Homo sapiens: one gene and its partners. The protein of the gene in region 1 interacts with the protein of each later gene in a pairwise test. Each region holds a gene or a part of one and is shown in the gene's direction. Other genes may lie near its edges. The genes, in order: AOX1, RBL1 and RCHY1.

Evidence for each region.
Region 2: the proteins of AOX1 (region 1) and RBL1 interact in a two-hybrid assay, tested with the Homo sapiens proteins (one large-scale study listed by BioGRID and IntAct).
Region 3: the proteins of AOX1 (region 1) and RCHY1 interact in a two-hybrid assay, tested with the Homo sapiens proteins (one large-scale study listed by BioGRID and IntAct).

The regions. Positions count from the first base shown.
Region 1 is NC_000002.12:200,609,946-200,613,598, forward strand, and holds part of AOX1 (aldehyde oxidase), read left to right. Parts: intron 1-1,438; coding exon 1,439-1,548; intron 1,549-2,663; coding exon 2,664-2,848; intron 2,849-3,653. UniProt on the Homo sapiens protein: Oxidase with broad substrate specificity, oxidizing aromatic azaheterocycles, such as N1-methylnicotinamide, N-methylphthalazinium and phthalazine, as well as aldehydes, such as benzaldehyde, retinal, pyridoxal, and vanillin.
Region 2 is NC_000020.11:37,068,431-37,072,083, reverse strand, and holds part of RBL1 (retinoblastoma-like protein 1), read left to right. Parts: intron 1-3,653. UniProt on the Homo sapiens protein: Key regulator of entry into cell division. Directly involved in heterochromatin formation by maintaining overall chromatin structure and, in particular, that of constitutive heterochromatin by stabilizing histone methylation.
Region 3 is NC_000004.12:75,504,343-75,507,995, reverse strand, and holds part of RCHY1 (RING finger and CHY zinc finger domain-containing protein 1), read left to right. Parts: intron 1-3,653. UniProt on the Homo sapiens protein: E3 ubiquitin-protein ligase that mediates ubiquitination of target proteins, including p53/TP53, TP73, HDAC1 and CDKN1B. Mediates ubiquitination and degradation of p53/TP53; preferentially acts on tetrameric p53/TP53.

The DNA.
Region 1 (3,653 bases):
ATTATTAGGAAGTTCTAATTGGTCCTCTGTAAATTTGTGGGGTTTTTTTTCGTTAAAAAATATGGACTAGTTTTCTATCATCTGCATTGTTAAATACTTACTCTTCATACCATTTAAACCATAAAACTATCTTTTTTTTTTTTTGAAATGGAGTCTCGCTCTGTCACCCAGTCTGGAGTGCAGTGGCACAATCTCAGCTCACTGCAACCTCTACCTCCTGGGTTCAAGCGATTCTCCTGCCTTGGCCTCCTGAGTAGCTAGGACTGCAGGCATGTGCCACCATGCCCAGCTAATTTTTGTATTTTTAATAGAGATGTGGTTTCACTATGTTGGCCAGGCTGGTCTCGAACTCCTGACCTCGGGTGATCCACCCGCCTCTGCCTCCCAAAGTGTTGGGATTACAGGCATGAGCCACAGTGCTTGGTCACAAAACTATCTTAAAGAGGAAGATTTGCATTCAGGGTTTTCAATTTGAGTAACATCCCCTAAAAGTCATACTATGAGAAACAGGTTTGTGATGTGAATATAGACATCAAAAGCTTCTTAGCTTTCAGTATTTTGTTATAGTTTTAAACTGTTCCTCTTCCTTATATATTAATTAAAGAACTAAAATTCTTCAGGTGTTGGAACAAGATATAAAAAAGTAAGATAACATCTCAGTAGTATACAAATTTATTAAAGATAATTTCTTATTCATGACTGTATCTAGTGGGGTTCCTGGTTATAAACAATAAATATTTGTTGGCTGACTTGATCAGAATATCAAAAGAGATATTAATATTTACTCCCTACTTGTAAAGTTTTAAGTGAATTGTGTTGTCAGGAAGAGGACTGCTAAGGTTCTATTCTACCTGAAACTCTGGGCTACTCTGTGAGATCTTTTCATCTATTTTTTAAATCTATTTTTTATTTTTAAAAAAATTTTTTAGATGGAGTCTCACTTTGTCATCCAGGCTGGAGTGCAGTGGCATGATCTCAGCTCACTGCAACCTCTCCCTCCCGGGTTCAAGTGATTTTCCTGCCTCAGCTTCCTGAGTAGCTGGGACTACAGGTGCGCACAACCATGCCCAGCTAATTTTTTTGTATTTTTAGCAGAGAGAGGTTTCACCATGTTGGCCAGGCCGGTCTCAAACTCCTAACCTCAAATGATCCACCTGCCTTGGCCTCCCAAAACACTAGGATTACAGGTGTGAACCACCACGCCCAGTCGATGTTTTTATCGATGAGAAAGCAAGGAAAACAAAAAGAGATGGGGCCTAGACTAGAAGAAACATTGCAAGACGCATTATAGGGTAAAAGATTTGCGAAGCATAGGAAGAGCACCTGTTTCCCTGAACAACCGGTTTCCTCAGGTATTTGGTAGAATTACTTCCTAAGTTTTGGAAGTTTATTTAACAGACCAAACAGATCCCAGGGAAAGTGTCATTTCTTTCCACAGAAGGAAAACGACAGATTCCTTTAAATGAGCAATTCCTCAGCAAGTGCCCTAATGCAGATCTTAAGCCTCAAGAAATCTTGGTCTCAGTGAACATCCCCTACTCAAGGAAGGTGAGAACATCCCACTGTCAATTTCCCAGTTGCACCTGTGATGCTATGGCTTGTTTATTCCAGTATATGGTGGAATAAGAAAAAGGGTGAAGTGTTTATGTGGGAGATAAAGGCTCAACTTCAGGAAGTGGTATGAGGTCATTATTTTAAGACTTGTGAATAGTTGCCTTTTCCTTGTATTACGCATGCCCCTATCATTCCTCGAATTAGGAGATTTTTTTTTTTTTTTGAGATCGAGTCTCGCTCTTTTGCCCACACTGGAGTGCAGTGGCATGATCTGGGCTCACTGCAATCTCTGCCTCCCAGGTTCAAGCGATCCTCCTGCCTCAGCCTCCCGAGTAGCTGGGATTACAGGTGCGCACCACCATGCCCAGCTAATTTTTGCATTTTTAGTAGAGACGGGGTTTCGCCAAGTTGGCCAAGCTGGTCTGGAATTCCTGACCTCAGGTGATTCACCTGCCTCGGCCTCCCAAAGTACTGGGATTACAGGTGTGAGCCACCACTCCCAGACTTATCTCTGCCATTCTCGCTCTTTCTCCCCCTACCCCAAGCTCTAAAGTAACTTTCTAAAAGGTTTTTGTCCCATAAGCCTTTCTCCCTAAATATGACATGAAGAGTATGCCTCTACCTATATCTTGGGTTTTGAAAAAAGCCTAAAAATACATTTGCAATAGAACTTATTGGAAAAAACATGAGGCTTTGCATGAGATAGAGTCAGGTTTGAATCCTGGTTTCAAGGCCTGAACTAATTACTGAATCCTTCTGCGCCTTGGATTCCTCATCTGTAAAATGGGAATAATCAAGCCTGCCTCAGAGGATGTATTAGTTTGCTAGGGCTACCATAACAAAGAACCACACACTGGGTGGCCTCAACAACGGAGAATGATTTTCTGGAGATGCTGGGGGCTGCATATCTGATATCAATGTGATACTCAACATACACATACCGTCCAGCACGTAGGTGATGCTCAACACACACACACTACCTGGTGTGTAGGTGACACTCAACACACACAGACTGCCCGGTGTGTAGGTGATACTCAAGACACACAGACTGCCCAGTGCATAGGTGATGCTCAGTGTTTCTACATGTGCCACTTAACTGTTTCTTTCAGTGGGAATTTGTGTCAGCCTTCCGACAAGCCCAGCGACAGGAGAATGCGCTAGCGATAGTCAATTCAGGAATGAGAGTCTTTTTTGGAGAAGGGGATGGCATTATTAGAGAGTTATGCATCTCATATGGAGGCGTTGGTCCAGCCACCATCTGTGCCAAGAATTCCTGCCAGAAACTCATTGGAAGGTAAGGCATTAGAAGTAAGGGCTCCTCTAATACTTGTCCTTAGACTCCAAGTATTAGAGGAGCCCTTTTTGTGGTGAGATGTGATTACAAGAAGAAAAGTGTTCCATACCTTTCTATTTAATGGCTGGGAATTCCAATAAGATTTTGTTATTATTTCCATATGTCTTGATGTTAGTGAATTCTGAAGTGGGAATTATATACTCTGTGTGCGTGTGTGTGTGTGTGTGTGTGTGTGAGAGAGAGAGAGAGAGACAGACAGACAGAGAAGCCCTCCCTCAACAGTGCAAATTTGTATTCTTTATTTTGGGAGAATAATTTGCCATGATGAAAAACCAATTATGTGAGTTTGTTCTATAATAAATTGTTAAAGGCATTTGCTTACCTGACTTCCTATATCTAAAGATGACACTAATAGCTAATATTTCTTGAGCATTACTTGGTATCAGCTGCCATAACAAAGCATAGTGATTAAAAGCATGAGCTTTAAAACTTGAGAAAGGCAGACTGGCCAAAATCTCAGTTTACCCTCTGTTAACTCCTCCATGCTCTCAGTCAGCTTACTTAATTATATTGGTACTTTGGTTCCCTAGCTGTCAAAGATGGGTGATCATACCTACCTCACAGGGCAGTTGAGAGGATTAAATGAGTGAATACATATAAGGTGCTAAAAGCAGATCTTGGCATGCAATAAATGTCCTAGTGAGGACATTTATTAGTGAGTAAATGAGGGTCAGTTACTCCTGGACTGTGGATTTTATATGAGTTGTCATTTATTTCTCTAGATCATTCTGTGAGTTGGGTTCTA
Region 2 (3,653 bases), on another chromosome or scaffold:
TTTTAATGAGGTCCTTAAGAGTCTCAGATTATATCAGCATGTCCAGAGTTTGAATGCTGTATTAGGACGTTTTACGTTGCTATGAAGGAATACCTGAGGTTGGGTGACTTATTTAAAAAAAGAGATTTATTTGGCCCAGGGTTCTGCAGGCCGTATAGGAAGCATGGGGCTGGCATCTGCTCCTGGTGAGGGCCTCAGGAAGTTTACAGTCACGGTAGGTGAAGGGGGAGGAGGCACATCACATGATGAGAGCAGGAGCAATTGAGGGTGGGAAGTGCCACACTTTTAAACAGCCAGATCTCAGGTGAGTGACAACTAAACTCACTACCATGAGGAGAGCACCAAGCCATTCATGAGGGATCTGCTCCCATGACCCAAACACCTCCCACTAGGCCCACCTCCAACATTGGAGGTCACGTTTCTTTTTTATTTTTTTGAGACGGGCTTTCACTCTCTTGCCCAGGCAGTAGCATGTTCATGACTCACTGCAGCTTCAACCCCTCAGGCTCAAGTGATCCTCCTGCCTCAGCTTCCTGAGTAGCTGGGCCCACAGTCACACACCACCATGCTTTGCTAACTTTTAAATTTTTTGTAGAGACGAGATCTCACTGTGTTGCCCAAGCTGGTCTCAAACTGGTGGGCTCAGGTGATCCTCCAGCCTCACCCTCCCAAAGTGTTGGGATTACAGGCATGAGCTACCATGCCCAGCCAAGGAAATTACATTGCAACATGAGATTTGGAGGGGACAAAACATCCAAACCACATTAAATAGCTTTGGATGATTTGCTATTAATGTCTTCTGTCACCTTAAAAAGAAATTATAAGTATTGGCCAGGCGAAATGGACTCAAGTAAGCCTTTCCAATCTACATGAAATAATCAGAACATAGGGCCGAGTGCAGTGGTTCATGCCTGTAATCCCAGCACTTTGGGAGGCCGAGGCAGGTGGATCATCTGAGGTCAGGAGTTCAAGACCATCCTGGCAAACATGGTGAAACCTTGTCTCTACTAAAAATACAAAAATTAGCTAGGCATGGTGGTGTGCACCTGTAGTCCCAGCTGTCAGGAGGTAGAGGCAGGAAAATTGCTTGAAGCTGGGATGCAGAGGTTGCAGTGAGCCAAGATCATGCCACTGCACTCCAGCCTGGGTGACAGACTGAGACTCCATCTCAAAAAAAAAAAATTACAAGTATTATTCTGTATATATTGCTAGACCTTTAATTAAGTGAGCTTTGACATGACAAGTTTTCTATCTAAGACCACGTTAACATAGGGACATAAAAAAATGTACCCAGAATTGGCCTGGGCACGGTGGCTTGCTTGAACACAGGAGGTGGAAGTTGCAGTAAACCAAGGTGGTGCCACTGCACTCCAACCTGGGCACCAGAACTATTAAGTTTTTTTCTGAGTATGTGCTACCTTCTTTACTTTTGGTTGTGGAACCACACATTGGAACTCAAACTCTTGAATTTTACTCCTAACCTGTAACAATCTGGTGCTTTGTAATCAAATTCCCATTTGGAAAATGGAATTGTCTTTCCATTTGGGAGACTTCTGTTTTCCCTCAAACTAATTTTATTTTATTTTATGTTTTTTTTTTTAAATTTATTTATTTTTTATTGATAATTCTCGGGTGTTTCTCACAGAGGGGGATTTGGCAGGGTCATAGGACAATAGTGGAGGGAAGGTCAGCAGATAAACAAGTGAACAAAGGTCTCTGGTTTTCCTAGGCAGAGGACCCTGCGGCCTTCCGCGGTGTTTGTGTCCCTGGGAACTTGCGATTAGGGAGTGGTGATGACTCTTAAGGAGCATGCTGCCTTCAAGCATCTGTTTAACAAAGCACATCTTGCACCGCCCTTAATCCATTTAACCCTGAGTGGACACAGCACTTGTTTCAGAGAGCACAGGGTTGGGGGTAAGGTCACAGATCAACAGGATCCCACGGCAGAAGAAGTTTTCTTAGTACAGAACAAAATGAAAAGTCTCCCATGTCTACTTCTTTCTACACAGACACGGCAACCATTCGATTTCTCAATCTTTTCCCCACCTTTCCCGCCCTTCTATTCCACAAAGCCGCCATTGTCATCCTGGCCCGTTCTCAATGAGCTGTTGGGCACACCTCCCAGACGGGGTGGTGGCCGGGCAGAGGGGCTCCTCACTTCCCAGTAGGGGCAGCTGGGCAGAGGCGCCCCTCACCTCCTGGACGGGGCGGCTGGCCGGGCGGGGGGCTGACCCCCCCACCTCCCTCCCGGACAGGGCGGCTGGCCTGGCAGGGGGCTGACCCCCCCACCTCCCTCCCGGATGGGGGTGCTGGCCTGGCGGGGGGCTGACCCCCCCCACCTCCCTCCCGGACTGGGTGGCTGCCAGGCGGAGACGCTCCTCACTTCCCAGACTGGGTGGCTGTCGGGCGGAGAGGCTCCTCACTTCTCAGACGGGGCGGCTGCCGGGCGGAGGGGCTCCTCACTTCTCAGACGGGGCGGTTGCCGGGCAGAGGGTCTCCTCACTTCTCAGACGGGGCGGCCGGGCAGAGATGCTCCTCACCTCCCAGACGGGGTCGCAGCCGGGCAGAGGTGCTCCTCACATCCCAGACGGGGTGGCGGGGCAGAGGCGCTCCCCACATCTCAGACGATGGGCGGCTGGGCAGAGACGCTCCTCACTTCCTAGATGGGATGGCGGCGAGGAAGAGGTGCTCCTCACTTCCTAGGTGGGATGGCGGCCGGGCGGAGACGCTCCTCACTTTCCAGACTGGGCAGCCAGGCAGAGGGGCTCCTCACATCCCAGACGATGGGCGGCCAGGCAGAGACGCTCCTCACTTCCCAGACGGGGTGGCAGCTGGGCAGAGGCTGCAATCTTGGCACTTTGGGAGGCCAAGGCAGGCGGCTGGGAGGTGGAGGTTGTAGCGAGCCGAGATCACGCCACTGCACTCCAGCCTGGGCACCATTGAGCACTGAGTGAACCAGACTCCGTCTGCAATCCCGGCACCTCGGGAGGCCGAGGCTGGCGGATCACTTGCGGTTAGGGGCTGGAGACCGGCCTGGCCAACACAGCGAAACCCCGTCTCCACCAAAACCAGTCAGGCGTGGCGGCCCGAGCCTGCAATCGCAGGCACTCGGCAGGCTGAGTCAGGAGAATCAGGCAGGGAGGTTGCAGTGAGCCGAGATGGCAGCAGTACAGTCCAGCTTCGGCTCAGCATGAGAGGGAGACCGTGGAAAGAGAGGGAGAGGGAGACCGTGGGGAGAGGGAGAGGGAGAGCTCCTAATTTTGTATTTGTAGTAGAGACGGGGTTTCTTCATGTTGCTCAGGCTGTGTCTTGAACTCCCGATCTCAGGTGATCTCAAACTAATTTTATAACCTGTCAATCTGTTAACTAACATTAACTTTGTAAATTTTATGCAAAATATTGTCTAGGTAATATAGAGAATAAAGGAAGTAGATAGGTGCTCTCGCTCCCTCCATAGCAGTAAACTCTATGTGATGACCACTAATTAATAACCTGTATTCCCCTGGTGATCCTGGGAACGAAAGTGATTTCATAGTGAGGACTTTTTTTTTTTAATTAAATTTAGGCTTGAGGGATGGTGTTTGTTCTTTGTTCATGTAAGACAGTGTCTTGCTTTGTCACCCGGGCTGGAGTACATGATTGAGGCTAACTGC
Region 3 (3,653 bases), on another chromosome or scaffold:
TGCCTTTGTAACCACTACCCAGATCAAGAAACACAACATTCATAGCACCTTCATAGCTTCCTGTGTGCCCCCTCCAAATTAATACACTTCCCCAAAGGTAACCAGTATGCTGACTTTTGGAAGTTTTTAATGAATGGAATCATATAGTATATGCTCTTTTGTGTTTTGTTTTGTATGTTTTAAGGCCATGTCTTTCAGCGGTCACATACTTAAAATTATTACATTTTCCTGTATGATTGACCCATTTATTATTATATAATGTGTCTTTTTATCTTTAGTAATGTTTCCTGCCCTAGGCTCTACTGTATCTATATCAGCTTTCTTTCGATGAGTTTTTGCATGTATATCCTTTTCCATTTAGACATTTTTGTATACTTACATTTAAGTCATGTGTCTTGTAAAACAGCATATAGTTGAATTTTAATTTTTCAATCCAGTTTGATAAAACTGTCTTTTAATTGGAGTATATAGTTCGTTTTTTATTAAGGTAGTTAGGATATGTTCGTGTTTCAATCTACAGTTTTGGTAGTTTCTATTGCCTTAGTATTTGTCTTTTTTCCTCTCCTTTCTTGTCTTCTTTGGATTAATCTGTTGCTTTCCTATTTGCTTTTATTCTCTATAGGCTTGTTAGTTATACATTTTTCAATTATTTTCTTAGTGGTTATCCTAGAAATTATAACATACATCATTGGCTTACTAGAATAATATGTTTATCACTTCTTGGACAATATTAGGACCTTAAACACTAAGAGTCTTTATATGCTATTGTTGTTATATATTTACCGTTTCTATTGCCCTTCTTTCCTGTAGGTCTCCAGCATTATCTTTGGAGTTACTTTTCTTCTGCTTAAAGAATTGTCTTTAGTGTTTCTTTTAGTGAGGTCCTGCTGATGATACATTCTCTCAGTTTTTTTTGTCTCTGAAAAATGTCTTTTTTTTGCCTCCATTTTTGAATATTTTTGCTGGGTGTAGAATTCTAAGTTTACAGGTATTGGTTCCCCTGACCTCCCAACACTTTAAAGATATTCTGATTCCATGGTTTCTGTTTAAAAATATCATTTCTCAGGATTATTATTGCTTCTTTGAAGTTAAAATGTCTTTTATCCTCCTCTCGCTGTTTTTTAAGTCATTGGTTGTTAGTATTTTTTCCGTGTGTCCAGGTTTGATTGAGTGTAATATTTATCTGGCTTGGGGTTTGTAGCATTTGTTGAATCTGTGGCTTGATGTCTTCTGTCAATTTTGAAATATTTTTGGCCAGTTTCTCTTCAGATAATGTTTCTGTACCGTTTTCCCACCTCTTCTGAGACTCCATCCCATAGATCTTTTTACTACATCCCATGTCTCTTTTTTTTTTTCCTGTATTTCTCCTACTTTGATTTTCTTTATGCTTAAATTGGATACTTTCCACAGATTAACTTCCAGGTCTCTCTTCTGCTGCATTGAATCTGCTTTTAAGCCTACCAAGTTATCTATTTATTTAAGTTATAAAATTTATATTTTATCTTCATTCTTGTTATTTTCTAGTTGTCAGGTGAAATTCTTTACCTTTTTTTTCTTTGAATGTATTGATCACAGATGATTTAAAGGACTGTGCCTAATAACTCCAATATCTTGATTATCTATGGGTAAATTTTGTTTTCTGTTTTTTCTCCCTTGGTGTTTGGTTCTGCCTTTTGACATGCTTGATTTTTTTTTTTAGTTGATTGTTGGACATAATATGTAAAAATTTATTAAGCTCTCGATGCTATTTTTTTTTCAGAGAGAATTTAATTTTCTTTCAGAAGGCAGTTAATGTAGGGATGGATAACCTTAATCCAATTTAGCATTGATATGATTAGAGACTAATTTTTGTTTTTTTTTTTTTTGTATGTCCTGTTCTATTTTTTTTTTTTCCTCCCTTTATTCTTATGCTCCTAGGACATAGTCCCTTGGAGATCTTGACTTAAAGCTAGGGTTGTTTACCAGGCCCATCTCTTTCGTGGTGGAATCTGGACTCCAAATTTTGGCCCCCTAGCATAGGAGTACTTTCAGAGGGTTTACTTAGTTTCTTAGGCTCTTACCTGTTGCTCTCTGTTTAGTTTCTTAGCTTGTCACAGCACAGTTTAGGGTCTAAAAATCTCCCAAGGAAGAAAGAAGTAGAGACTATTGACTTTGCCTCAGTATATTTGCTTTCTCTCTGAGATCTTTGCCCTTCAAGCACTCAGTTGCTCTTTACTACTTTTAAACAGCTTGTTTGTTTTCTTTAAATTGAGTTTTTCTAGTTCTCAGTAGGAGTTTTAGTCCTATAGAAGCTATTTCGTCATTGTGGAAGTAGAAGTTACAATATATGTTTCATTTTGCTTATTTTAAAAATCATATATATGGCCTTTTTTTCTTTTTGTTTTTTTACTGAGCTCTGTTTCTAAGATTCATCCTATTTGATTAACTCTAATTCATTTTCACTTTTGTAGTGTTATTTTGTATATCATATCTACACATAGCTTCTAATTACCACACACAACCAAGAAAATCATACCCTCTTTTATTGGTTGATTTATTGACATTCAAGTTATTGTTACTGCAAAGTACACATCTCATGCTACATGGTAAATATTAAACTTCATGAGATCATGGTATTTTCATATTTTAAATTTCTATACCTGGGAGTGCCTTATATCAGGGTCCCCAGTGCTTGGGGTGCGGATTCTGGTGCATGGCCTGTTAGGAACTGAGCTGCGCCCAGTGCAGGGTGAGTGGTGGGTGATCGACCATTACTGTCTGAGCTCTGCCTCCTGTCACATCAGTAGTAGCATTAGATTCTCATAGGAGCACAAACCCTATTGTGAACTGTGCATTCAAGGGATCTAGGTTGTGTACTCCTTATGAGAATCTAATACCTGATTATCTGAGGTGGAACAGTTTCATCCCGAAACCATCCCCCAACCTCGGTCCATGGAAAAATTGTCTTCCATGAAACCAGTCCCTGGTGCCAGAAAGGTTGGTGACCGCTGCCGTATATACAGTAGGTGCACAGTAATGTGTAGGCAGTATATCTTTGGCAGTGTTTTCAGTATTATGATAACCCTGAATATACTAGAAAAATTAGTCATCGCCATTTACCATTTAAGTATAATGGATTCTTTTTACTTTAAAAAATATTTTAAAGCCCTTTTGTGAATAATGTGCAGACGAAAGAATAAAGGATAGTGAAAATTAACTTCACTGGAAATTTTACTAAGAATTTGAACACTGCAAACCCAAATTTTAATTCCATGTATTCCAAGTTGAAGATAATGTGTGCTCAAATATGTCAGTGTCCTCTGTAACTGCTTTTGACCCTTGAACAATGTTGGGGGTTAAGGGCACCAAGTGCCAGCTCAGTTGAAAATCTGAGTATAACTTTCAACTCCCCACAACTTAACTACTAATAGCCTGCTACTGACTGGAAGTCTTATCAATAACACAAATAGCCAATTAATACATATTTTGTATGTTATATGTATTATATACTATATTCTTAGGATAAACTAGAGAAAAATATTAGGACAATCATAAGGAGAAAATATGTTAACTGTTCATTAAGTGGAAATGGATCATCATAAAGGTCTTCATCCTTCTTCATGTTGAGTAGGCTGAAAAGAGGGAGGAAGAAGAGAGATTGGCTTTGCTATCTC